7 linked regions of the Homo sapiens genome follow. The protein of the gene in region 7 interacts with the protein of the main gene of each other region in a biochemical or structural test. Each region holds a gene or a part of one and is shown on either strand. Other genes may lie near its edges. The genes, in order: SIPA1L2, HTRA3, MPP7, GRIP2, CARD11, MAST2 and TMEM225B.

Evidence for each region.
Region 1: the proteins of TMEM225B (region 7) and SIPA1L2 interact in a test that uses a peptide from one of them, tested with the Homo sapiens proteins (one large-scale study listed by IntAct).
Region 2: the proteins of TMEM225B (region 7) and HTRA3 interact in a test that uses a peptide from one of them, tested with the Homo sapiens proteins (one large-scale study listed by IntAct).
Region 3: the proteins of TMEM225B (region 7) and MPP7 interact in a test that uses a peptide from one of them, tested with the Homo sapiens proteins (one large-scale study listed by IntAct).
Region 4: the proteins of TMEM225B (region 7) and GRIP2 interact in a test that uses a peptide from one of them, tested with the Homo sapiens proteins (one large-scale study listed by IntAct).
Region 5: the proteins of TMEM225B (region 7) and CARD11 interact in a test that uses a peptide from one of them, tested with the Homo sapiens proteins (one large-scale study listed by IntAct).
Region 6: the proteins of TMEM225B (region 7) and MAST2 interact in a test that uses a peptide from one of them, tested with the Homo sapiens proteins (one large-scale study listed by IntAct).

What each region holds. Positions count from the first base shown.
Region 1 is NC_000001.11:232,508,134-232,511,633, forward strand, and holds part of SIPA1L2 (signal-induced proliferation-associated 1-like protein 2), read right to left. Parts: intron 1-3,500.
Region 2 is NC_000004.12:8,276,254-8,279,753, reverse strand, and holds part of HTRA3 (serine protease HTRA3 isoform 1 precursor), read right to left. Parts: intron 1-3,500. UniProt on the Homo sapiens protein: Serine protease that cleaves beta-casein/CSN2 as well as several extracellular matrix (ECM) proteoglycans such as decorin/DCN, biglycan/BGN and fibronectin/FN1.
Region 3 is NC_000010.11:28,052,779-28,055,064, forward strand, and holds part of MPP7 (MAGUK p55 subfamily member 7), read right to left. Parts: intron 1,467-2,286; coding exon 1,287-1,466; 3' UTR 1-1,286. UniProt on the Homo sapiens protein: Acts as an important adapter that promotes epithelial cell polarity and tight junction formation via its interaction with DLG1. Involved in the assembly of protein complexes at sites of cell-cell contact.
Region 4 is NC_000003.12:14,519,843-14,523,342, reverse strand, and holds part of GRIP2 (glutamate receptor-interacting protein 2), read left to right. Parts: intron 1-267; coding exon 268-343; intron 344-1,555; coding exon 1,556-1,701; intron 1,702-1,720; exon of another isoform or gene 1,721-2,149; coding exon of another isoform or gene 2,150-2,198; intron 2,199-2,805; coding exon 2,806-2,953; intron 2,954-3,063; coding exon 3,064-3,233; intron 3,234-3,500.
Region 5 is NC_000007.14:2,911,368-2,914,867, reverse strand, and holds part of CARD11 (caspase recruitment domain-containing protein 11), read left to right. Parts: intron 1-1,401; coding exon 1,402-1,581; intron 1,582-2,571; coding exon 2,572-2,696; intron 2,697-3,500. UniProt on the Homo sapiens protein: Adapter protein that plays a key role in adaptive immune response by transducing the activation of NF-kappa-B downstream of T-cell receptor (TCR) and B-cell receptor (BCR) engagement.
Region 6 is NC_000001.11:46,016,612-46,020,111, reverse strand, and holds part of MAST2 (microtubule-associated serine/threonine-protein kinase 2), read right to left. Parts: intron 517-3,500; coding exon 415-516; intron 1-414. UniProt on the Homo sapiens protein: Appears to link the dystrophin/utrophin network with microtubule filaments via the syntrophins. Phosphorylation of DMD or UTRN may modulate their affinities for associated proteins. Functions in a multi-protein complex in spermatid maturation.
Region 7 is NC_000007.14:99,604,767-99,608,266, reverse strand, and holds part of TMEM225B (transmembrane protein 225B), read right to left. Parts: intron 1,520-3,500; coding exon 1,373-1,519; intron 595-1,372; coding exon 457-594; intron 1-456.

The sequences.
Region 1 (3,500 bases), on a different chromosome or scaffold from region 7:
CCTGTGCCAGCAGAATGGCTCTAGCAAAACAACGTTCCCGAAGGCTCAGACAATGATTTAGCCACTTTTCACTTCACTCCTGAGTCACCACGGAGGCCCAGCTTCATCCTCCCATCTGGTTTTAACCTCTCTTTACCCAAATATTACTCACTTTGCCTCCTAGAACTATTCTGGTCTGGGTGGCATAAAGTAGGGCACAGAACCGTTTTAGAACTCCTGAGTAACCCACTAGGTGCACAACTTCTTAACAAGTTAAGGATTTCGTCACCAAGCGGGGGAGACCTCACGTGTCAACACACAGTGTCTGGGCTCTGCCACACAGTTCCAGCACTGGCCCCACTGTTGGTGGCAGTGTGCAGTGCCAAGCAGGTCCAGAAGGAGGCAAAGCCTGCTGCTCTGCTACAATGGAAACCAGACTCACTGATGCTCACATGACTGACCGTGGTCAAGCACAACTAGAATCCCTATCTAAGGGACCCTTTGTCACAGCCTGTTTCACAAATGCAAAGCTCAAAGCAGCAGCAAATGGCACATTCACAATGAGTCCCATCAGAGAAACAGTAATGTGACAAACGGCACCAATGTGTCTTCATGGTTATCGCCCGTGAAAGGAAGGGACTTATTGGGCATTCACTCTACTTGCTACTATCCTCACTGCTTTTAAAAAAGCTGTTTTGGCTGGGTGCGGTGGCTCACGCCTGTAATCCCAGCACTCTGGGAGGCTGAGGTGGGTGGATCACCTGAAGACAGGCGTTCGAGACCAGCCTGGCCAACACGGCGAAACCCCATCTCTACTAAAAATACAAAAATTAGCCGGGCGTGGTGGCACATGTCTGTAATCCCAGCTACTTGGGAGGCTGAGGCAGGAGAATTGCTTGAACCCGGGAGGCAGAGGTTGCAGTGAGCCAAGATTGCGCCACTGCACGCCAGCCTGGGCAACAGAGCGAGACTCTGTCTTCAAGAAAAAAGAAAAGCTATTTCACTGAAAGCTACAGATGGATTTGCCTGGGCAAGCGATGTTGTCACACAGTTTCCTGTGTCCTGCCACTCCCCTGCAGAAATCCTTTCACAAAGTTATTCAACAGCCTTTCAGTGATGATGTGTCACAGAAATACACCTCAGCATCAAAAGCAGACATTTCACATTAACTACCCAATAAAGAAGAAATCACATTATTAAAGTATCGCACTTTAAACATTTGCCATGATTGGGAGCCAGTTAATTCTCTTGAAAATGAAGTTTTACACAGAACCCTGAAGCACAGAACAAAATAAAAGCACTCTGGAAAGTATTGAAAGATAGATCCCTGAAAGTCAGTTTCCAAAGAGAAAATCCTTGAGAGAAGGGAAAAGCAAAAAAGGGAAAGAAAAAAGCTATCTCAAAAACATCGTTATCTGTGCCAGTCTGCCCAGGCCCTCTGTTTTTAAATACAATGAAGCTCACCCAACTCATGATGTTTGCAGACAGAAGGGTCTTGCACAACTGTGTCCAGTGGCTGAAGCGGGAATGGGAATCTACTCCCACACCATAGGAGGCCTCCACCTCACTGTACTTTTCACTTAAGAATCTGGGCTGCTGCCTCTGCCTGGAGTCCTTAATGGCTCAACAAGAGACCAGCAAGAGCAGGAGCAGATGCCATTGTAACCAATTTCACTTTGAAGTCACACTGGACCACAGGGGAAGAGCTAAATATAGGAGGAGGCAGGACACAGTTCACAGCTGCGCTGGAGAGAGAACAGAGCAGCCGGGGCTCGGCCTTCTTCTCGCTCCTGGTGGCCGCTCCTTCCCCAGCCCGAGCCCATCTGCAGGCACAACAGCACCTTCCACAGCACAGAATCACAGAACACTGAAGACAAAGTGACCTCACGGATTGCCTCCCCACTCCCTCATTTTGTGGGCTTTGCAAAGCACAGTCATGTACCGCATAGGGATATTTCGGTCAACAATGGACCACATACATGACGGTGGTCCCATAAAATCATGATGGAGCATATACAGAAATCTGATGCATGGCACTTGATATTGGCAGTGCAGATGAATAAGGGGAAATGTCTGATATTCAGTAATGGTGCTGGGACATTTGGTTTTCAATATGAAAATATATATATATATATGAATAAAGATATATATCTAGGATTGTGTAAGTATACTCTATGATGTTCACGCAATGACGAAATTGCCTAATAACACATTTCTCAGACCATATCCCTGTTGTTAACTGATGCGTGACTATAGTCTAGAATTCTGCTTTCTGACTCGTTTATAAATCCACTGCAAAGCTCAGAACCAGAGAGTGTGCCCAACAGCACCAAAATGCCAAACGATAAGCGTACATCCACCCACAATTCACTGACAGGGTGTCTACACTCAGATTCTTCTTTGGAGCTTATTTATTTCACATTCAAACCTAAGCAGTTTGATGATGTCATTTGCAATGCTCTTGAAAAACTAAGTAGCTCATCAGAAAAGGTGGAGGAAATAAATCACTTGCAGAGGAGTCTTTAAAACTACCAAGAAGTGACAGTTGAGAATTCAAGAGAAAAACTACAAGTAGCAGTCAAGAAAACTAACAGAATCTAGCAACCTAAAATCATCTCGGGGAACAGACCCTGGGGACATTAATGAATCAAATGGTGGTGACCGGGGTGCACAAAACAACAGTTTTTCATTCCACTTACACTCAGACATGTGCAACAGCATATGAATGAGACGCTGGCACTAAGTTTTGGCATAAATATGAACATATATATAATTTTATGTTCTAGTATTTCAAAGTCTGAATCACAAACTATTTACAAAACTCAGCTAGCCAGAATGACTAATTACCTGGGGATTTCAGGGCATAATAAATCCAACAGACTTTATTTTATTAAGAATTGGCAGCCATGGCTTCATCAATAAAAATAACCTTAATTAGGAAGCCTATCTCTCCATCTCCCTTTCCAAAAATAACTAACTTCCACCTAGAGAGCATCCTTGAGCAGTGTGATATAATGTGATACCTCTGCATGAACACGGGCATGAGGGTTATGAGTTATTTTCACAGCAGAGACAAAAAAGCAGGTCCAGGATTCTTTGATTCCACTGGCTGGAAGGAAGTAACTATGGTGTTAACACTGAGGCACACCTGAAGCCAAGACCGAAATTCAGGGTGGAGGAGAGGAAAGGAGACACAACAGGGGACCAAGATCTGTTGACAAAACTATTTCAGTCCTATTATGTCATCAGTATGAGGACAGAGAGACAATTCACACTAAGTGACCAGATGCAGTGTAAATATCTGTTTATTTAGCTTTATTGCATCAGATCATTTCTCTGATTCATGTTGTCATAATGTGATTACAAAAGACATGCTAAGTCTGGATTGATGCAAAAACAGGAGGGGGAATTATTAATAATCACAATTTATCTGGCAGACAAATTCTTTTAAGTCTATACTCCATGAGAAAAAGTAATAAACAGGCTTCACAGTGGTTTAACGTTATAAGGGACTGAAGTGG
Region 2 (3,500 bases), on a different chromosome or scaffold from region 7:
AGCCACAGGCTGAGCCCGCATTGCCTGTGCAGGCAGCCACGGCACACAGGGACCTGGGCCCAGTGTGAACACAGCAGAAGGAGGAATGGCAGCACCTCTCCTCCCACAGGTGATTAGAAAAGGCTGCCTTCCTGTGTGTCTCCATCCTGGACTCAGACACTCCAACACCCAGGGCCGGAAAGCTCTCTGGACCCCAACGTGTCCACCCCCTGCTTGCCAAAGCCCAGCCCCTGGACCCCCTCAAGCGCCTGGGCTGCTGGGCCCCTGAGCTCTGACGCGGCAGCCTGAAGATCTGCACAGCACTGCGGCCTCCACCGGAAGGACTTTCTCCCCAGTGTGGTCTCCCAGAGGTCACTTAAAATAGGTGACACTCGATTTTATAGGGGATGATTTGTTTTAAAACCCTCTGTGAAATATTCGTTAAGTAAAAGCCTTGCAGGAAACATCAAAATTCTACTACATGGTGGTTATTTGTGGTTGGGGTAAAGTTACAGTGACTTTTTTTCATTTTTCAAAGAGAAAATAAAACAGGGAGGGAGAGCAAGGCCTGAGACAGAAGGGCCGTGGGGCTGGGCTGGGAGGTGGCCTGTTTCCCACAGAGTCTCCAAAGAGAAGCCCGCACGTGCCCACCCCACACCCCAGGCTCCTTTGGGACAGAGACCATCTGGTTCGCTTCCACACCCCAGTGGTAACCAGCACAGGGTGAGACAGCCGCTGAGACATTTCAGAGGGAAGGGATGGAGGGGGAGGAGGGGCGGAGAGAGGAGGGGAGGAAGATAGAGAGAAGGGAGAGAAGTTCAAGGGGGCCCTTCTTGATGCTCTCTGAGCCAGCACACAGTAGGTCTGCAAAGAGCACCCTGAAGAAAGAATGTGGGTCAGCTGATTAACCAAGTCTCCAAGCAGCCTCACAAAAGCAGCAGCACTCGCCCATTTTATGGCCCAGGAGACTGAGGCTTAGAGGCAAAGATCAATCACTGAGGGAGGGCAGGCCTGGCGCTGGCCCAGGTCTGCTGGATTTCAGGGTCTAGGCAACCCCAGAGCCTGGGGCACCCCTGCAGGGCCCCACCAGGTCCTGTCCCTTTAAGCGGACCTCGGTGGGTGGTGGGGTGGGGGCAGGGGCCCCCGTGCCCCAGCTCCTCCTCCCAACACGCAGATGAATCAGCCATGAATCAGGGGGAAGGGAGGACGCGGTTCCCACTGCCTCTTTCCACAGGAAAACCGTGGGCCCCACGGCTGGGAAGCAGACTCTGTTTATTTGGGGGTTTTTGACAACCTCCACCCCCACCCCATCCTCGAGCCAAAGTTCTGAAGTCAACAGTCAGTCTCAACCAGATTCAGCCGTTAGCCTTTTTTTTTTTTTTTTCCTCAATAAACTGGAATCTAAAGCCCTGGAAGTTTCAGTCAGGGAGACCCTCACACAGAGCAAAGCAATCAAGGCCCGAGGCTAGGTGTCCGGTGTCACATCCCAGGAGAGGAAGGGGCGCAACAGGGCAGGGGAGACAAGTAGGGTGCCAGGGCTCCAGCTCCAACAGCCCTGCCTGATGGAACTCCCAGGAGTCCTGGGGGACTGTGGCCAACCCTGAGAGAGGACCACGTGCTGGCTCTGGACAGTCATAACTGCCATGGAACAGATGGCGACACTGAGGCCCAGATACTCTGTGGGGATACCTTGTGTTTGTACACTGCGTAACTCCAGGCCCTTACTGACAAATATCAGAGTGGCCAGCTTCCCTGCAGTTGTGCAGTGCACAACCTGCCCAACTGTATGCATCAGTCCCTCTAGCACATAATGTGCAGAGCTGGGACTGACACCCAGTTCTGTTCCTCCATCTCTAAGGTCCCTGCCCCTTCTTTTAGTGCCCTCTGCAATTAGCAGACCCCTCTGCCACCCAGTGGTCAGCTGTGAGCTGGGGATGGAGGAGCCATGAGTGGATAGCCATGGGTCCCAGGCTGTGCCCATCTGTCCATAACGGTGACCATGGTCTACAGACCAGATGGCAACCTCTAAGCAGGGCATTCAAGGCCTGGGGTGTCCTGGTCCCATTGACATCTGCAGCCTCACGTGCTGCCACTCTCCCCTGTGGACCTCGGCTCTGCTTCCTGCGCGTGCAGGCTCCTAAGTGTCACTGTGCCTTTGCACATGTGGTTCCCTCCTCTGGGAATATGCCCTTCCTGTCATTCCTCAGGGCCCAGGCCAGCAGCGCCTCCTCTGGGGAGCCTACCCTGACTTTGCAAGCGTGGTGATCCACCTCTCCTTCTGGGCCCAACAGCACCTCGTACCCTTCCCAAAGCTAGTCCCTTGGGAGTGTACCTGTGGCCTGCACCCCTGCGTCTGGGCTGGACCTGGCCCGCTGCAGTGGGCAGGAAGCAAATGAGGGAGCGAATGAATGCTCTTCAGAGACAGAGGAGCCATTCCAGGGGCCCCCTCAACAGCCCCCAGCCCCGCCCACCACTAAAGGGGCTGCCTCCTGGGTCTAACTAGTTCCCAGGGCAGCTTCCTTTGCTTTTCCTCCTCTGGAAAACTTGCCTGTCCCCTAGTGAACTTTGCCCCACCGAGCCATGTCCCCAAGTGAACCGTGCCCCCACAAGCCTCAGGTCCAGCTGTGGCTCCCCGTGGGGTGGATGCTGCCATCTGCCACCCTCAAGCCCAGAGACCTGTTCATGTGGAACGCAGGCGGGATGAGGGCTGCAGCCCAGGCCCAGAGGAACCCGCTGCCTCCCCCTCCACGGGCCACACCTCGCAGGCGGGACCCGATTTGGGCATGGGACGTCAGGCTGGGCTCCGAAGTTTGTGATCTCATTGAATTCTTGCAGCAATTCTGCAAGACAGGAACTGAGTCCATTTTACAGGCAAGGAAACAAGGCTTAGAGAGGCCACGGGACCTGCCCAAGGTGCACAGCCAGGCCCCGCAAGCCCTGACCTGGGCGCTTCCCCTGCTCCGTGCTGGCCCTTGGCAAATGTGACAACCTGTCCAGCCCCAGAAAAGCTCAACCTAGACCCGAGCTCAATGTGGGGCCAGCCTGGCTCCTCTGGCTGTGAAACTCCACACCCAGCTGGGCCACAGCCAGCCCCTGGGAGGAGGAGGAGGTGCTGCCGCCAGCCTGCCTGTGATTTACCAAGAAGGCTGGTCCTTGTGCACAGTGCCATGGGTCAGGCACTTCCATGCCACTGAAGGCAAGGAAGACAGCCCCTGGCCCTCCTCTTACAGGAAGCCCTCCCTGCCTTGACCGGGGCCAATGAAACTCCCTCCGGCAGGGCCAGCACATGGCAGCACCTCCACAGACACCGCCTTCCAGCTCCTCCCCTTCCTCGACCCCTCTCCCTCACTCTCACTAACTCCACTTCTGTAAGACGCGTCCACCTGCCATCCTTTCTTCACATCAACTTCTATGAGCCCGGCACCGTGCAAAGCACACTCAGTCCATCATCTCATTTGCCCAGTGACCAGTGAGGGGGGTCCCACTGTTATCCATTTCACAGATGAAGAAACTGAGGTGCA
Region 3 (2,286 bases), on a different chromosome or scaffold from region 7:
TAACATTTTTTTTTCCACTTTGAAAGTCACAGATGCAATGATTTTCGACGGGCAGGGCTTCACTGCATGCAAGAACGGCAGGATATGCTCTCTTATAGAACGGATAGACATTTCTAGCATTTTGAATTATATAATTCACTTGCTGAAAATCAGTAGTATCAAAGAAAAGTGAGAGAACCCATCTAAATATTTACAATATAAGAGTCTTTCCTAAACTTCTTTAACAATGGCAAGGTTAGGATGGTGTCTGGACAGTGTTAACAAGCATTTTGATGACAAAGAAATAACATCACATGAAAAGTTTTCTAAAATAAATCTTAGAGCAATTTAAAGAGGGGTGATCTATTGCACATAGATGAAAAATAATCTTTAATTGTATCAGTAATATGTAAAACAGGTTTTACATGTTTTAGAATAGAAATCCTTCTTCTAATTTATTGGAAAAATCCAAAACCAGCTAAAATAACATTTTGGGTGACTTCATAAATTGTCTTCTGAGGAATTACAAATAAAAATATCCTTTGTAATCATTTCTTGCCACAAGGCTACCATTCTTACTTATATTAATCCCAAAGGAAAGGCTTTTCGTTACATATATAATAACTGTTAAAAGTCTACTTTCCCTTATTAAATGTTGTTGAGTCACTGACAGGTACTCAAAAGGACTTCTCAAGCTATATTATGAAGGCCATTCACTCAAGGTAAAATTTCAGTTACTCCTTTAAGAATTATTTTAAAATGCACACACTGTGAACGTATTGCGAATATGTAAGAAAGTCTACACTTTTTGAATAGTAAGAGGACACCTTACTGCCTGCCCGGCTAAATCTGTGATGATCCACCCAGAAACAGCAGAGCTCACCTGTCTGTCTGGAGCTGCTCATGGCTGCTGAATTGATACCTTCAACAGCTAACATTCAAACTCGACAGCAGCAGCCACACCTGAGACCAGCAGAAGCGCTGAACTCCCATACATACTAAGCCTCTAGCTAAGTCTCTCTGAAAATTTCAGCCTCATCTTGGAGATAGAGCGGTATTGAAGACAACGAGAAGGTTTGAGGTTTTGCTTAGAATACAGTACTGTGCATATTTTGATTTCGGATCTTATACTAACACATGGCGTTTGAAATAAGGCTGTAAAAAGATACAAACAAAACCAGCATTCAACTTGAACCAAGATTGTACATCTATGACAGTGATATAGATTTAAAAACCCTACTACCAAAACTGTAATTGATTTCATCATGCACTCTATAGAAAAAGACAATTATGGAAATTTCTCTTAGTTATGAATGTAACCAGCTCACTGGCACCCAATGGGTCTCTGTCTCTAATTTGTCAAAAGTTGTTTTGAGCTCATTGAATGCCACAGTGAGGTCATCATTTATTATAATTTTGTCAAAAAGATGACCATATTGACTTTCCATTATCTGTGCAGATTTAATCATTTCTTGAAAATCTTCTTCCTACAAAAGGAAGTATTAAAAAAATAATTGGTTAACCAGGCCATTACCTCACTTCATATCAATGCAAACATTCTACAATTGGTTTACCTAATGCTGTTCTGTGTTCAGTCTTTCCCCTCAGCCAGAAATAAAAGTCATCCTCTTTAACCACAAGTGCTTCAGAAGCCATAATTTCTAATACTATTTCTATGATTTGCTTGTAACAAAAAACTACTCTGGCAAGAGTCAAAACTCCTGCCTTAACTGAATTGCAGGATAATGAGTCACTAGTCATCATTATGGGGAAATGTCAGTATTAAAATAGCTATTGGAGAAAAGAATTGTTTACTCTGATGTTTTGGCTGCATTATTTATGCTTATTCATAGGAAGGAATTTATAATATAAACTCCTTTTTCAGAGTTGGACAAATTTGTAAAAGGATGATTACCATGTTTTTTGTTTTTTGTTTTGAGATAGAGTCTCACTCTGTCACCCAGGTTGGGGTGCAGTGGTGCAATCCTGGCTCACCGCAACCTCTGCCTCCGGGGTCCTAGCAATTCTCCTGCCTCAGCCTCCCGAGTAGCTGGAATTACAGGAGCGTGCCGCCACACCTGGCTAATTTTTGTATTTTTAGTACAGATGGATTTTCTCCATGTTCACCAGGCTGGTCTGGAACTCCTGACCTCAAGTGATCCCCACCTGCCTCGGCCTCCCAAAGTGCTGGGATTACAGGCATGAGCCACCACGCCCGGCTGATTACCACGTTCCTTCGATGTCTCATTAAAAGTGTTTCAGGAGCCTTCGTGTCTCACATTTTTAAAGCCAGGAAGTATTTTAGTT
Region 4 (3,500 bases), on a different chromosome or scaffold from region 7:
GATCAGGGAAAAGGGGAAATAAGGTGAGGTCACAGAAGGGAGGCAAGCCATTTAACAGAGAGAAGACTTTGGTCATGTTACCCACCCCTTGCACCATCTCTTGGGAGGGCGAATTTATTGTTGGTGTCTCATAAGAGGGTCCATGGATAGCAAGGACAAGGTCCTCAAACAGGTTTTATTGAAGGAGCCTGCTCAGGGGCTGTGTGGGAGCCTCTGGATGGGAAGGGGTGGGTGGATGATTCCTGCTTCTTGTCAAATCCTGTCCAGGAGGTGCCCATGAAGATGGGCACAAGTCCCGCCCGCTTGTCCTGACCTACGTGCGGCCCGGTGGCCCTGCCGACAGGTGAGCCGAGGCAGAAGAAATCCACACACTGCACTGACCTGCCCCAACTCCCCTGCGAAGAAGGTGGAGTGGGGTCACCATGCCCCTTCCCCAGATGAAGAGATCGAGGCCCTGAGGGAACACTCCCTGCCCGGTGTCATTCAGGGAGTTGTTGATGGAACCGGGATGTAACCCCAAATGAGGGAAACCTCGAGCCCTTTCTTCCCCAACATACTGCTGTCTCAGGGGTTGGGGTGTTTGGAGAGGGGCAGCCTTGGTGTCGTTCTTCCCTTTCCTGCTCCTTGGTTTTCCCGTCTGTGGAATGGTCCCTAAGAGTTGCTATGAGAGATTTGGGGGCACGCTGATTGGCCACTGCTGTAGCCGTCTGTGACTCAGTCTCCTGGGTCCTGGCTGATCGACCCAGCTCGGCCCCGCCTGGGCCCAGCCCAGAAGGGCCAGGAGGAGAGAATGTGGGGAAAGAACATGTCCAGTTCCCAGCCCCTGATCCCTCGGCCTCCCCAGTGGGAGATTCCTGGCCATTTTAAGAGAAGCCTGGAACGGCCTTGTCAGAAATCTAAATCTGTCCTTGGGACAGGGCCCTGTGATGAGCTATTCATAGAACCCCCGAGAATAGCTTTGGCCACCTGTTGGGAGAGGCGTTCCAGGCTGGGGATGCGACCCAAACCGAGGTGAACCCTGCTGGGGCCCCTCCCCTGGCCCCTGTTGAGTTCTTTCCCAGGCGCGGGTTGTCATCAGGCCAGAATCACCGCTGAGAAACCAGGGTGAGGGTGGAGCAATGGGAAGGGACCAGGACGGCTCAGAGCAGCCCCCAATGCCGTGTGGCATGGGCACAGCTTGCACCCTCTCTGGGCCCTGGTGCTGTCCTTTGTCCCTGAGGCAGGAGTTGGGGGTGACGCTTGAAGAGCACCCCCAGCTCAGACATTTCAGGGTTCTGCACTGAGTCTGTGAATTACTGCACACCCAGAGGAGTGGCAGGCGGCAGAGCCACCCCATCCTGTCTTCATCCCCCCCTTGCTTTATGCAGCTCCCCACTCCTGGAGTGGCTCATTCCTTCACTCACTCATGCGCCCCTTCACCCGTCCCCTCCTCCCCTTCCTCCCCCACCCATTCCCTGCTTCTTCATCCTCCATGTCCCGCTTCCCAGCGCCCTCCCAGACAGGCTGTGCCCAGTGCTGCTGCCGGGCCAGGCTGGTGACTGGCCCTTCCCTACAGGGAGGGCTCCCTGAAGGTGGGCGACAGGCTGCTCAGTGTCGATGGAATCCCGCTGCACGGGGCCAGCCATGCCACCGCCCTGGCCACCCTGCGGCAGTGCAGCCACGAGGCACTCTTTCAGGTGGAGTATGATGTGGCCACCCCTGGTGAGTTGGGGGCCTGAGTGTGTGGGTTGGGGCAGGAGGAGGCCTGGGATGGGGGGAGGTGGCAGTGGCCATGGATCTTTACCACTGCAAAGGCTGCATGACCTTATGACCTTGGGCCAGTCACAGCTTCTCTGGGCAGTAAATAGTATGTGCTAGGCATTGTTTGATGTGCTGGGGATCCAGCCTAGAACAACAGAATTGAGGTGTCTGTTCTCATGGAGCTGGCATTCTGGTGGAGAGAGGACAGTATCCAGAATAGATAAGATATGGTGTATGTCAGTTGGCAATAAGTGCTATGGAAAAAAGAAAAGAGGCAGGGGAGAGAGATGGGACAGGCTGGGGGATGCTCTCTCACTAGGGGAGTGAGGGAATGAGCGAGGCATGGAATGTCCAGGGACAGCATTCCAGGAGGGCGGAAGAGTAAGTGCAAAGGCCCTGAGGCAGGAGCATGGCCAGCATGGTTGGTCACAGTGAGGAGGCTGCCGTGGTTGGCACAGGTGAGTGAAAGGAGGTAAGGGCAGAGCAGGGTGAGGTGGAAGCCGGGAGGCCATAGGAAGCGGCAGCAGCTGTCCAAGCGAGAGCTAAGGGACTGAACCAGGCTGGTGGCTAAGGAGGGGAGAAGGCACGGGATTCAGGAAATATGATGACGGTCCAGCTGGCCTGATCTGCTGAGATTTAGACATGGGTGGGCGAGGGCAGGAGCTAAGGGTGCGGCCAAAGTTTTAATTTCCAGCCACTGGGTGTGTTAATGGAGGTGCCATTTCCTGAGATGGGGATGGGTTGTAGTGAACTTTACAGTTTAGTGCTGGTATACCACAGGCTCTTCATAAACTCAAGCAAATTCATTTCACCCAGCAAAGCCCTGGGATCACAGCCCCTCAGACCTGAGCTCCTGCCCCTCCTCCACTGCTATCTTATCTGTCAAATTGATATAACATTTGGTAGAAGATAAAAAAAGAAAGAAAAGGAATAAAAAATTATGTTAATCAAATGGGTATAACAGTTTCTTCCAGGCAGCAAGGATTAAATCAGGATAGCAGGGTGAGGCTGGGGAGGAAAGTGCTCGGTATTTGCATTTCAAACTTTTTTTCTCCGTCATGCCAGACACGGTGGCTAATGCTTCGGGACCCTTGATGGTGGAAATAGTCAAGACGCCAGGGTCTGCCCTGGGGATCTCGCTCACCACCACCTCCCTCCGGAACAAGTCAGTCATTACCATCGACCGCATCAAGCCAGCCAGCGTGGTGGACAGGTAAGGCACACCCTGGGTGCTGCCACCATGGAGGTGTGTGCAGGGGAGAGGCGGCCCAGAGCTTTGTCTGGCCTGGACCAGCCTCCGCCTTCACTCCCCTGCCTGGCCAGGAGCGGAGCCCTGCACCCTGGAGACCACATCCTGTCCATCGATGGCACCAGCATGGAACACTGCTCGCTGCTTGAGGCCACCAAGCTCCTGGCCAGCATTTCAGAGAAGGTGCGGCTGGAGATCCTGCCTGTGCCCCAGAGTCAGCGGCCACTGAGGCCCTCAGAGGCAGGTGGGTCCCCTCAGTAGATCTCAGGGCCCAAACCTGGGCAGTCATGAGGCCTGAGAGGCCTGGGACCAGAGCCCTGGGCAGGCTGGGAGGAGCAGGCTAAAATGTACTAGGACAAATCCTCATTTGCCCAGGGAAGCTCAAATTATTAAGAGCAGCAACTGAGGGTGGGAAGGTGGGGCAGAGAAACAACTTGAGGGTTTGAATTGAGTCTGCTGGCATAGATGCCCCAAAGCTGGTTTCATCACTGGTTGCATTAATAGGAGTATA
Region 5 (3,500 bases), about 97 Mb from region 7:
ACTAAAAATACAAAAAGTTAGCCGGGCGCGGTGGCGGGCGCCTGTAGTCCCAGCTACACTGGAGGCTGAGGCGGAAGAATGGCGTGAACCTGGGAGGTGGAGCTTGCAGTGAGCCGAGATCCCGCCACTGCACTCCAGCCTGGGTGACAGAGCGAGACTCCGTCTCAGAAAAAAAAATAAAATAAAATAAATAAATAAATATATATATATATAACTATAAAATATATAAAAACATTAAAATAAAAACATAAAGCATTAAAAATAAATCTTAAAATATGTAAATAGCTAGGCATGGTGTCACGTGCCTATGGTCCCAGCCACTTGGGAGGCTGAGGTGGGAGGATCACTTGAGCAGGAGTTTGAGGCTGCAGTGAACCAAGATAACATCACTGCAGTCACTCTGGCCTGGGCCATACAGCAAGACTCCTAGCTCTAAAAATAAAAATAAAAGACAAAAAGAAATTAAAACGGTGAGGGAGCCTGGCCTTGGCTGTGAGGACCATGCTGCCTCGGGGTGACATCCCGCCAAGCTCACCCAATAACGACGCTCTCGTGTGGTTGCTTCGCTCCCGGGTACCCGTGTTAATTGGGGCTGTTTGCTGTGAAGTGTTCGTTTTATTGATTTCTCTACCCACTGAGTGCCACTTGCCATTTATCAACCCGGCGAGGGGCCTCCCGGTCCACCGTCCCCCACCCCGCTGGCCCTGGCTGGCCCTGCTCAGGGAAAGGGAAGCCACACAGCCCTGGCTGGATCTCAAAGGAGGCCTTGGGGCGGCTTCCCGGGCTGGCCCTTTGGACGTTGGAGTGGCCAGGCCAGGGTACAAGAAAAGGCACAAGGGACAAGGGACAGGCTGCCCGTTTCTGGGAGCTGTTTCCTCGGGCTGCCTGGGGGTGGCTTCATCAGAACCCCGGGCTTCTGTGTGGCTCTGCCACTCCAGCCACAGAGGGACTGAGAAAGCAGAACTGAGGCCAAGTCGTCCCTCCCAGTGCTCCTGGGAGACACCCAAGGCCTTGGCCGCTGGTCCTGGTGTCTCGTGGGTGCCTGCCGGCACTTGCTTTCCTTGCCCTCGCCCTCCCCTCCGCTGGGCTGTACCCAGTCCCTACCCTTCCTCCAAGAAGCCCTCCTTGATCGTCTGACAAGGCAAACTTTCCCTCCAGAGCTCAGCCAAGGTTCCTGCATTTGTCACACACTCTGCCTGCCCCCCACCACACCTCCCCTCCCTGGCACACAAGCCCCAAGCAGTGCCAGCCCGAGGTGACCTCAGACACTGGATGCCCGGGGCAGCAGCCAGGCCTTCACACTGACGGTGGCTTCCAGGACCCAGCCCAGGGGCCCCGTCCTCCGTGGAAGGTCTTCGGAGCCCCAGGGGTCTGACCGCCACCCTCTCCTGCCCCTGCCAGAGCTGGACCCTGAGAGCGAGCTGGGCAAGAACCTCAGCCTCATCCCCTACAGCCTGGTACGCGCCTTCTACTGCGAGCGCCGCCGGCCCGTGCTCTTCACACCCACCGTGCTGGCCAAGACGCTGGTGCAGAGGCTGCTCAACTCGGGAGGTGCCATGGAGTTCACCATCTGCAAGTCAGGTGAGCGGCGAGCCACGGCCACCTGGGGAGCCCCGCGGGAGCCATGAACCAGGACGACTTCCCCTCTTCTCTTCCCTCCTCCCCTCTTCTCTTCCCTCCTCCCCTCTTCTCTTCCCTCTTTCCTCCTCTTCCCTCTTTCCTTTCCTTCCTCCTCCCTTCTCCCTCTTCTCTTCTCCCTCCTCCAACTTCTCACTCCTCCCCTCCCCCTCCTCACTTCCCTCCTCCCCTTTCCTCCCCTCCTTTTCTTCTTCCTCATCCTCCCCTCCCTCCTCCCTCTTCTTCCCTCCTCCTCCTCCCCATCACCCCTCCTCCCCCTGGATAGGTGGATGGATGGATGGAAGGATGGCTGAATGGATGATGGGTGACTGGGTGGGTGGACAGATTGATAGATAAATGGGTGGGTGGATGGATGGATGGAAGGATGGGTGGGTGGATGGGTGAGTGGGTGGATGGATTGGTGGATGGATGGATGGATGGATGGATGGATGGATGGATGGATGGATAGGTGGGTGGATGGATGGATGAGTGGATGGATGGATGGATGGATGGATGGATGGATGGATGGATAAGGGGATGGGTGGATGGGTGGATAGGTAGGTGGACAGATGGGTGGGTGGGTGAGGGGTCGGTAGATGGGTGGGTGGATGGATGGGTAGGTGGGTGGGTGGGTGGAACAGGAGATTTATTTAGACTGGTGATCAGCCTTGCACCACGGTGCCTGAGCTGCTTTGTCCAGTGAAAGGTATTGCTGAGGTGCCAAGCACCTGCTCTATGGGCTGCCATGGGGAGTATGGAGAAGGTTAACCTTAGCCCTGCCCTCAAGGAGCTTCACAGTCTAGTCGAGGGGAGACGAGATTCATTTAAACATGGCTGGAAGGGGATCGGACATCGAGTTCTGTAGAGCCCAGAAGGTGGCAGGCAGGGCCTGAGTGGGATGGTCAACCCAAGGCCACCTCGTGCTGCCCTCAGGACTGGCCCCTCTCTCTGCAGATATCGTCACAAGAGATGAGTTCCTCAGAAGGCAGAAGACGGAGACCATCATCTACTCCCGAGAGAAGAACCCCAACGCGTTCGAATGCATCGCCCCTGCCAACATTGAAGCTGTGGCCGCCAAGGTGAGGCGGGGACTGGGAGGTTGGATGGGGCCAGGACCCTCCGTGATGATCCTCATGAGGCCACCTGGGCCAGGGACAAGGGTGGGATGAAGAGTTGTTTTCACCTCCCCGTGGCCAGACCTCTCCTTTTCCCCTTGTCCCAGCAGCTGCCCCGTGTTAACTCCCTCTCTGCACCCTTGTTCCCTGGGCTCTGAAGTGAGTTTTTATTTTGGAGCTTTCTATTTGTGTTGGCTTCCTGGAGCTGGTGTGTGTTCGCATTATTTAGGAGTGTGTGTGTCTGGTTGTGATAACAAGGGCCAGAGATAGAGAACGAGCTCATCAGGGCGAGAGACAGGATGAACATGAAGGTGACAGGTATTGCATTCACCAAACGAGGGGAAAACGGGGCATCACAAGGGTTATTGGCAACGATGCAAAAAGGTTGTCTGTGTGCAATGTGGAGTCTTTGGAGCCAGACAATGTGACCTAAGCGTTGAGCTCTTCCTCGTCCCAGCACTGGATGAAGAAAAGGCTCTCTGTCCGCGTCACTGGAGGGCTCCCCCAGCTGCCGGGGGCTGGCTCCGTGGTGGACGCTGACCTTGGGGATGGCAAGAGCAGATGGTGGTGTTTTTGTTTTTTTTAAGTCTGGGCCACAGCAGTTTAGGAAATTCTGATAGCTGGCGTGGATAGAAAGTGAGCAGACAGGGTTGGAGCTGAGATTGTTTTTAGCTGAAAAGAAGAAGCCTTCCAGCAGATCTGTGCTGTAGAAATGTGGGCCATGGTCCTATTGGTGGGGAATGGGGAGCAGTGGCCCCGCAGGAGGCC
Region 6 (3,500 bases), on a different chromosome or scaffold from region 7:
AGGAAACATCCCAAGATCAGAGACTGTGCTTTATTCATGTCTGTATCTCCAGTGTCTAGCAGGAAGTAGGTACTCAGTCAAGTATTGCTGAAGATAAAATGAAGGACTCAACTTGTACAAACTAAACTGGGCTATGCTCCTGACGCTTCTCACCCCCAAGACCCCCACTGATGTGAGCCCTGCTCATGTGGGGGTGGCCTAGACTAATAATTCTCCCTGCCGCATCCCCTCAGGACCATACATTTGTCCTCACAAAAACCTGTTTAGTCCCCCAATGGTGGCAAATCATATTTAAATAAGGACCTAAGCAACAGAAATGGCAGTGGTTACCACCACAGTTTTGCTGTCATCAGGATACTTCCTCTATAGTCCTCCTCTAAATCTGCCCACCTGACTTTCCTAGAGTCCACTCACCAGGCATTCCAGGAGACGTGCTGGGCGGGCAATGATAATCATCAGCTTTTTCACCAGCTGCATCACAAAAGCCACTTCTGAGCTCTCTGAGCGCTCATGAGCCTATAGAGAAAAGAAGCGTTGCTTAATCTATTGGCCCAGTGTGGCTGGGCTAAGCAGGACCAGACAGGGCAGAGCTGACTCCAGGGAGAAACAATTCGGTAGCATAGAGAGCTCCGCAAAGCAAGGAACTCAGAGAAGGCTGGCTGGCTGTGAGAGGGAGCGAGTTGCTCATAGGGAACCATTTCTGCTTTAGAACACTACATGACACCAAGAAATGCCACACAGACATACAGCTGTACCTGCTCCTCCATCCAACAAGCCTCACTTACCCTCCAGACCCTAGCTCAAGGGGCAGCTCTCAATGGTGCCTTCACTGATGTTCACTTTCCACCCTAGACTGTAAGGAGTAGAAAGACCTCAAAGCTGAGGAGTCATATGACCAGAAAGTACTTCAGAAGGATCACTCTGGCTGCAGTGTAGAGAGTACACTAAAGAGGGCAAGGCTAAATGCAGGAAAACCCATTAGCAGGCAACTCTAATAATTCAGATGAAAAAGGCATAGGTCAAGGCAGAAGAATGCAGACAAGGGGATAGACGTGGGTTACTACAGAAGCAGATAAGGGGTGAAAGAAGCACGACAGAAGGCAACTACAACTTCAATTTTAGGAAAATTACAATGAATAAGTGAAATAGTAACTATAAGAAGCCATTTAGGTGATAGGTAAAGAATGTACTGCATTTGGTTTTAGAGAAAGAACAGCTAGGCAGAAAAGATAAGCTCAGTTCTGGGCGTGCAGTTTCAGGCACCTATATGAGAGTCTCTTGGGTATCTGCTTGGCCGATGGGCCTTTCTCTTTTTTCCTGAGAACTGCTCTGGTTTCTAGGAGCCACATTTGTACTGTGTGTCTGTACCTTCCCTCCCACCTCTAATAGCTGACCAGAGAGGATCACTTTCCTAGGAATTTAAAAAAGGATAGAAAGACAACTGTTAACGTCAGTGTGGCAGAACCGTTTAAGAACTGTGAAAAGAGATGCATACCTACCATGGAAATAGAGGAAAAGATGCATACAGAAAAAGGAAGAATGAAGACTTCCTGAGCTTCCTGGAGCTTCTGGTTTCTAGTTCTGGTTCCTTCTTAAGGCCTGGTTATATCCCTCGCTTCAATTCTCTAAGACCTACTCCTTTTACTCTTATAATGTTTCCCTTTACTGTTTAAACTATTCTGAATCAGTTTCTATTACGTGCAACCAAAGAATAAGAACCAATATAGGGAAGTCAAAGTGGAGGAGTCCAGCAGGCAGCTGGGTGCACTGATCTGAAGCTCAGGAGAACAGTAAGAGTGGCAGCCACATGTGGGAGTCCTCAGCGTAGAGATGACAACTGAAGACATGGGAGCAGGTGGCAAGACATCAGAGAGAGAGTGGAGGAAAGAGAAAGGGGAGACCAGGCATGCCGGATGGTGCCCTGTGACACACCAGTAGGAAGAGGTGGGCAGCAAAGGAACTTGTGAAGAGGCAGCAAGAGTGGTGAGAACAGTGAATTGACAACTGGGGAAGGAAGTTTAGGAAGTATTCACTGTGCTCCACCGAGAGGTGGCAGAAGATGGGAACTGAAAGTGGCCACAGGATTTGGCAATTGGCCAGTGAGTTCCTTGGTGAATTTTGCCTGAACAGTTTTGGTAGACTGGTGGGAAGGGAAACTGGAAGGCAGAAGATTGAGTAGTAAATAGGATACAAGGAAAGAAAAACAGTAAATGCTATTGTGAATAGTGCCGCAATAAACATACGTGTGCATGTGTCTTTATAGCAGCATGATTTATAGTCCTTTGGGTATATACCCAGTAATGGGATGGCTGGGTCAAATGGTATTTCTAGTTCTAGATCCCTGAGGAATCGCCCCACTGACTTCCACAATGGTTGAACTAGTTTACAGTCCCACCAACAGTATAAAAGTGTTCCTATTTCTCCACATCCTCTCCAGCACCTGTTGTTTCCTGACTTTTTAATGATTGCCATTCTAACTGGTGTGAGATGGTATCTCATTGTGGTTTTGATTTGCATTTCTCTGATGGCCAGTGATGGTGAGCATTTTTTCATGTGTTTTTTGGCTGCATAAATGTCTTCTTTTGAGAAGTGTCTGCTCATGTCCTTCGCCCACTTTTTGATGGGGTTGTTTTTTTCTTGTAAATTTGAGTTCATTGTAGATTCTGGATATTAGCCCTTTGTCAGATGAGTAGGTTGCGAAAATTTTCTCCCATTTTGTAGGTTGCCTGTTCCCTCTGATGGTAGTTTCTTTTGCTGTGCAGCAGCTCTTTCGTTTAATTAGATCCCATTTGTCAATTTTGGCTTTTGTTGCCATTGCTTTTGGTGCTTTAGACATGAAGTCCTTGCCCAAGCCTATGTCCTGAATGGTAATGCCTAGGTTTTCTTCTAGGGTTTTTATGGTTTTAGGTCTAACGTTTAAGTCTTTAATCCATCTTGAATTAATTTTTATATAAGGTGTACGGAAGGGATCCAATTTCAGCTTTCTACATATGGCTAGCCAGTTTTCTCAGCACCATTTATTAAATAGGGAATCCTTTCCCCATTGCTTATTTTTCTCAGGTTTGTCAAAGATCAGATAGTTGTAGATATGCAGCGTTATTTCTGAGGGCTCTGTTCTGTTCCATTGATCTATATCTCTGTTTTGGTACCAGTACCATGCTGTTTTGGTTACTGTAGCCTTGTAGTATAGTTTGAAGTCAGGTAGCATGATGCCTCCAGCTTTGTTCTTTTGGCTTAGGATTGACTTGGCGATGCGGGCTCTTTTTTGGTTCCATATGAACTTTAAAGTAGTTTTTTCTAATTCTGTGAAGAAAGTCATTGGTAGCTTGATGGGGATGGTGTTGAATCTATAAAAATTACCTTGGGCAGTATGGCCATTTTCACGATATTGATTCTTCCTACCCATGAGCATGGAATGCTCTTCCATTTGTTTGTATCCTATTTCACTGAGCAGTGGTTTGTAGTTCTCCTTGAAGAGGTCCTTCACGTCCCTTGTAAGT
Region 7 (3,500 bases):
TATTTTATTTTAGAGATGGAGTTTTGCTCTGTCACCCAGGCTGGAGTGCAGTGATGTGATCTCGGCTCACTGCAACCTCTGCCTCCTGGGTTCAAGCGATTCTCCTGCCTCAACCTCCCGAGTAGCTGGGATTGCAGACATGTGCCATCACGCCCAGCTAATTTTTGTATTTTTAGTAGAGATGGGGTTTCACCATGTTGGCCAGGCTGGTCTCAAACTCCTGGCCTCAAGTGATCCACCCATCTCGGCCTCCCGAAGCACTGGAATTACAGGTGTGAACCACCACATCTGGCCAATAACTATTTTAATTAACGAAAGTTAAATAGCCACGTCTAACTGGCAGCTGCGGTTTGGAACAGTGCAATTCTAGAGAATCCAAAGGGAGGGCCTCCACAAGACAGGTTCCTAAATCCAGACCGAGGACAAGAAGCAGGGCACTGTTCCCTGGACACTCACCAGCCACTATGAACAGAAAGATGCCGAAGCCCAGCACGTAGTAAGGCCACAGCACGGAGAACTGCAGGGGGCCGAGCTTCATCCTCAGAGCCTTGATCTCCAGGGCATGCAGCACCAAAGCCAGGAAGGCACAGGCCCCTGGAGGGTCACAGGGAGACACCCTCGGTCTCCTCCCATGCTACCCGCCTTCCCTCCAAACTTCACCCCCTGTGGCTCCTGCCTGGAGGCTCCTTCATCCTTGCCCCCTCTCTGAAACAAAACTCCTACCCAGATGCCTGTCCCTCCCTCCTTTCTGACTCATCTTCAAAGCCCATGTGCTTTACCTTCCAGGGAACCATCATCAGAACTCCCTTTCCTAGCACCCTCTGCATCTGCCCTTAGCTCACCTCTGCACCTTAGCAGAGGGTGCAACACTTTGGATTAAATGCAATCCCATTTTCCTACTGCTCTACCTCCACCATTTGCCTAGGAGCCTCTCAGGGTGGAGCCTGGGTCACCCTTTATAAATGTCAAAAGGGGCCAGGTGCAGTGGTTCATGCCTGTAATCTCAGCAATTGGGAGGCTGAGGCAGGAGGACCGCTTGACACCAGGAGTTCAAGGCCAGCCTGGGCAACATAGCGAGATCCCCATCTCTACCAAAAAAAAAAATGTTTAAATTAGCCAGGAATGGTGGCACATGCCTAGAGTCCCATCTACTTGGGAGGCTGAGGTGGGAGGATCACTTTAGCCTGGGAGGTTAAGGCTGCAGTGAGCTATGATAGCACCACTGCACTCCAGCCTGGGTAACAGAGTGAGACCCTGTCCCTAAAAAGAAAAATTATGCCTCTTTTGACATCACAGAGACTGAGCACCCCTCTTTCTCTGGACTCCTCCCCAGGCCCTAGCGAAGGTCAGGGATCACCTAGCTGTTCCACACCTGTGAAGAAGCTGATGCAGGCTAACACAAAGTTTTGCTTCCAGGTCCTCGGGAAGAACTCGGATGCAAAGGGCATCATGATGAAGGTGGTGACGAAAGCCAAGAAAACTGCAGAGAGCAGGAAAACCCGGCCGAGGATGATGTAAACTGCAGGGGAGGGAGAAGTGGGGCTGAAGCTGGGAACCCTGACCCGGAAAGGTCAGAGTCCCTCAGAGCCTGGGCAGGGCTGGCCCCCGGAGCCTCCACCACCCTTAGATCCCAAAGCATGGCCTTGGGACCAAGGTTGTGACCATGCCACTTTGGCCCCAAGAATGCTTTGGCCCCACAATTTGATTCCCAATGGCATAGAAATATAGGAAAAAAAATTAAATTGACAATGTCAGACACTGAAATCACCAGTTCTTAATAAACATATTTTTTCTTTTTTTGAAACAGGGTCTCCCTCTATCGCCCCAGCTGGAGTGTGGTGGTGCAATCTCAGCTCACTGTAACTTCGACTTCACAGGCTCAAGCAATCCTCCTGCCTCAGCCTCCAGAGTAGCTGGGACCACAGGCATGTACCACCACACCTGGCTAATTTTTTTATTTTTATGTTTTGTAGAAACAGGGTCTTGCTCTGTCGCCCAAGCTAGAGTGCAGTGGCACCATCATAGCTCACTGCAGCCTCAACCTCCTGGGCTCCAGCGATCCTCCCATTTTGGCCTCTCAACGCGCTGGGATGACAGGCGTGAGCCACCGTGCCTGGCCTTAACAAATGTTATTATGGGAATTTGGTTGTACCAAACCATGTATCATCCACTAGGGGAAAATGGTGGTTTTAAAAAGCAACACAAAATCAAACTCTTGTGATAAAATTTGTTGCACATGCAAATGTGAAGAATCACACCTGTATTGGTTACCCTGAAGTAATTCGCCTGTGGAAAATCAAAACTTTGTGAGGTCAAAATGTTCTGAACGCTGAGGGAATCCCCACATCTTTATTTAATTTTCCTAGTTAATAGGAGTGAGACTGGGTGCAATGGTTCACGCCTGTAATCTCAACACTTTGGGAGGCTGACGTGGGAGGATTGCCTGAGGCCAGGAGTTGGAGACCAGCCTGGGCCACATAGTAAGACCCCATCTCTACAAGAAATTTTAAAAAGTTGGGCACGGTGGGGCACACCTGTAGTCCCCGCTACTTGGGAGGCTGAGGCAGGAGGATCACTTGAGCTGAGGAGATGGAGGCTGCAGTGAGCTATGATCACACCAGCCTGGGCAACAGAGCGAGATCCTGTTTTTACAAAACCTAAAATTAAAAAATTAGCTGGGAGCTGTGGTGCGCACCTGTAGTCCCAACTACTCAGGAGGCTAAGGTGGGAGGATCGCTTGAACTCAAGAGTTGGAGGCTGCAGTGAGCTGTGATCACACCAGCCTGGGTGACAAAGCGAGATCCTGTTTTTTACAAAACATAAAATTAAAAAATTAGCTGGGAGCTATGGTGAGCACAGGTAGTCCCAACTACTCAGAAGGCTGAGGCGGGAGGATCGCTTGAACTCAGGAGTTGGAGGCTGCAGTGAGCCATGATCACGCCACTGCACTTCAGCCTGGGCAACAGAGTGAGTCCCCATCTGTAAAAGCAACAACAATAACAGAAGTAGTGAAATAGACCAAAATTAGCAGAGCCAGAGTCTGATAACAGGGTGATTTGTTCTCTGACTGCTGGCATGATGCAGACCCATGTGAAAATGAGTTTGCATACCCTCCTGAGCTGGCAGAGGTGGGCAGCTGGCAGTGGGATAAGGAGTCAAAGTTGCTGTTGAAGCCCCAGATATCCCAGAGTCTACCCTTGGGTTAACCAAGCCTGGTTAATTTTTTGTGTTTTGTTGTTGTTGTTGTTGTTGTTGTTGTTGTTGTTGTTTTGAGACAGGGCCTCACTCTCACTCCCAGGCTGGAATGCAGTGGCATGATCACAGCTCACTGCAGCCTCGAACTTCTGGGCTCAAGCAGGAGCCCTCCAACCTCAGCCTTTTGAGTAGCTGGGACTACAGGCACATGCCACCATGCTCAGCTAATTTTCTCATTTTTGTAGCAACAGGGTTTGGCTATGTTGCCCAGGCTGGTCTTGAACTCCTGGCCTCAAGCAATCCTC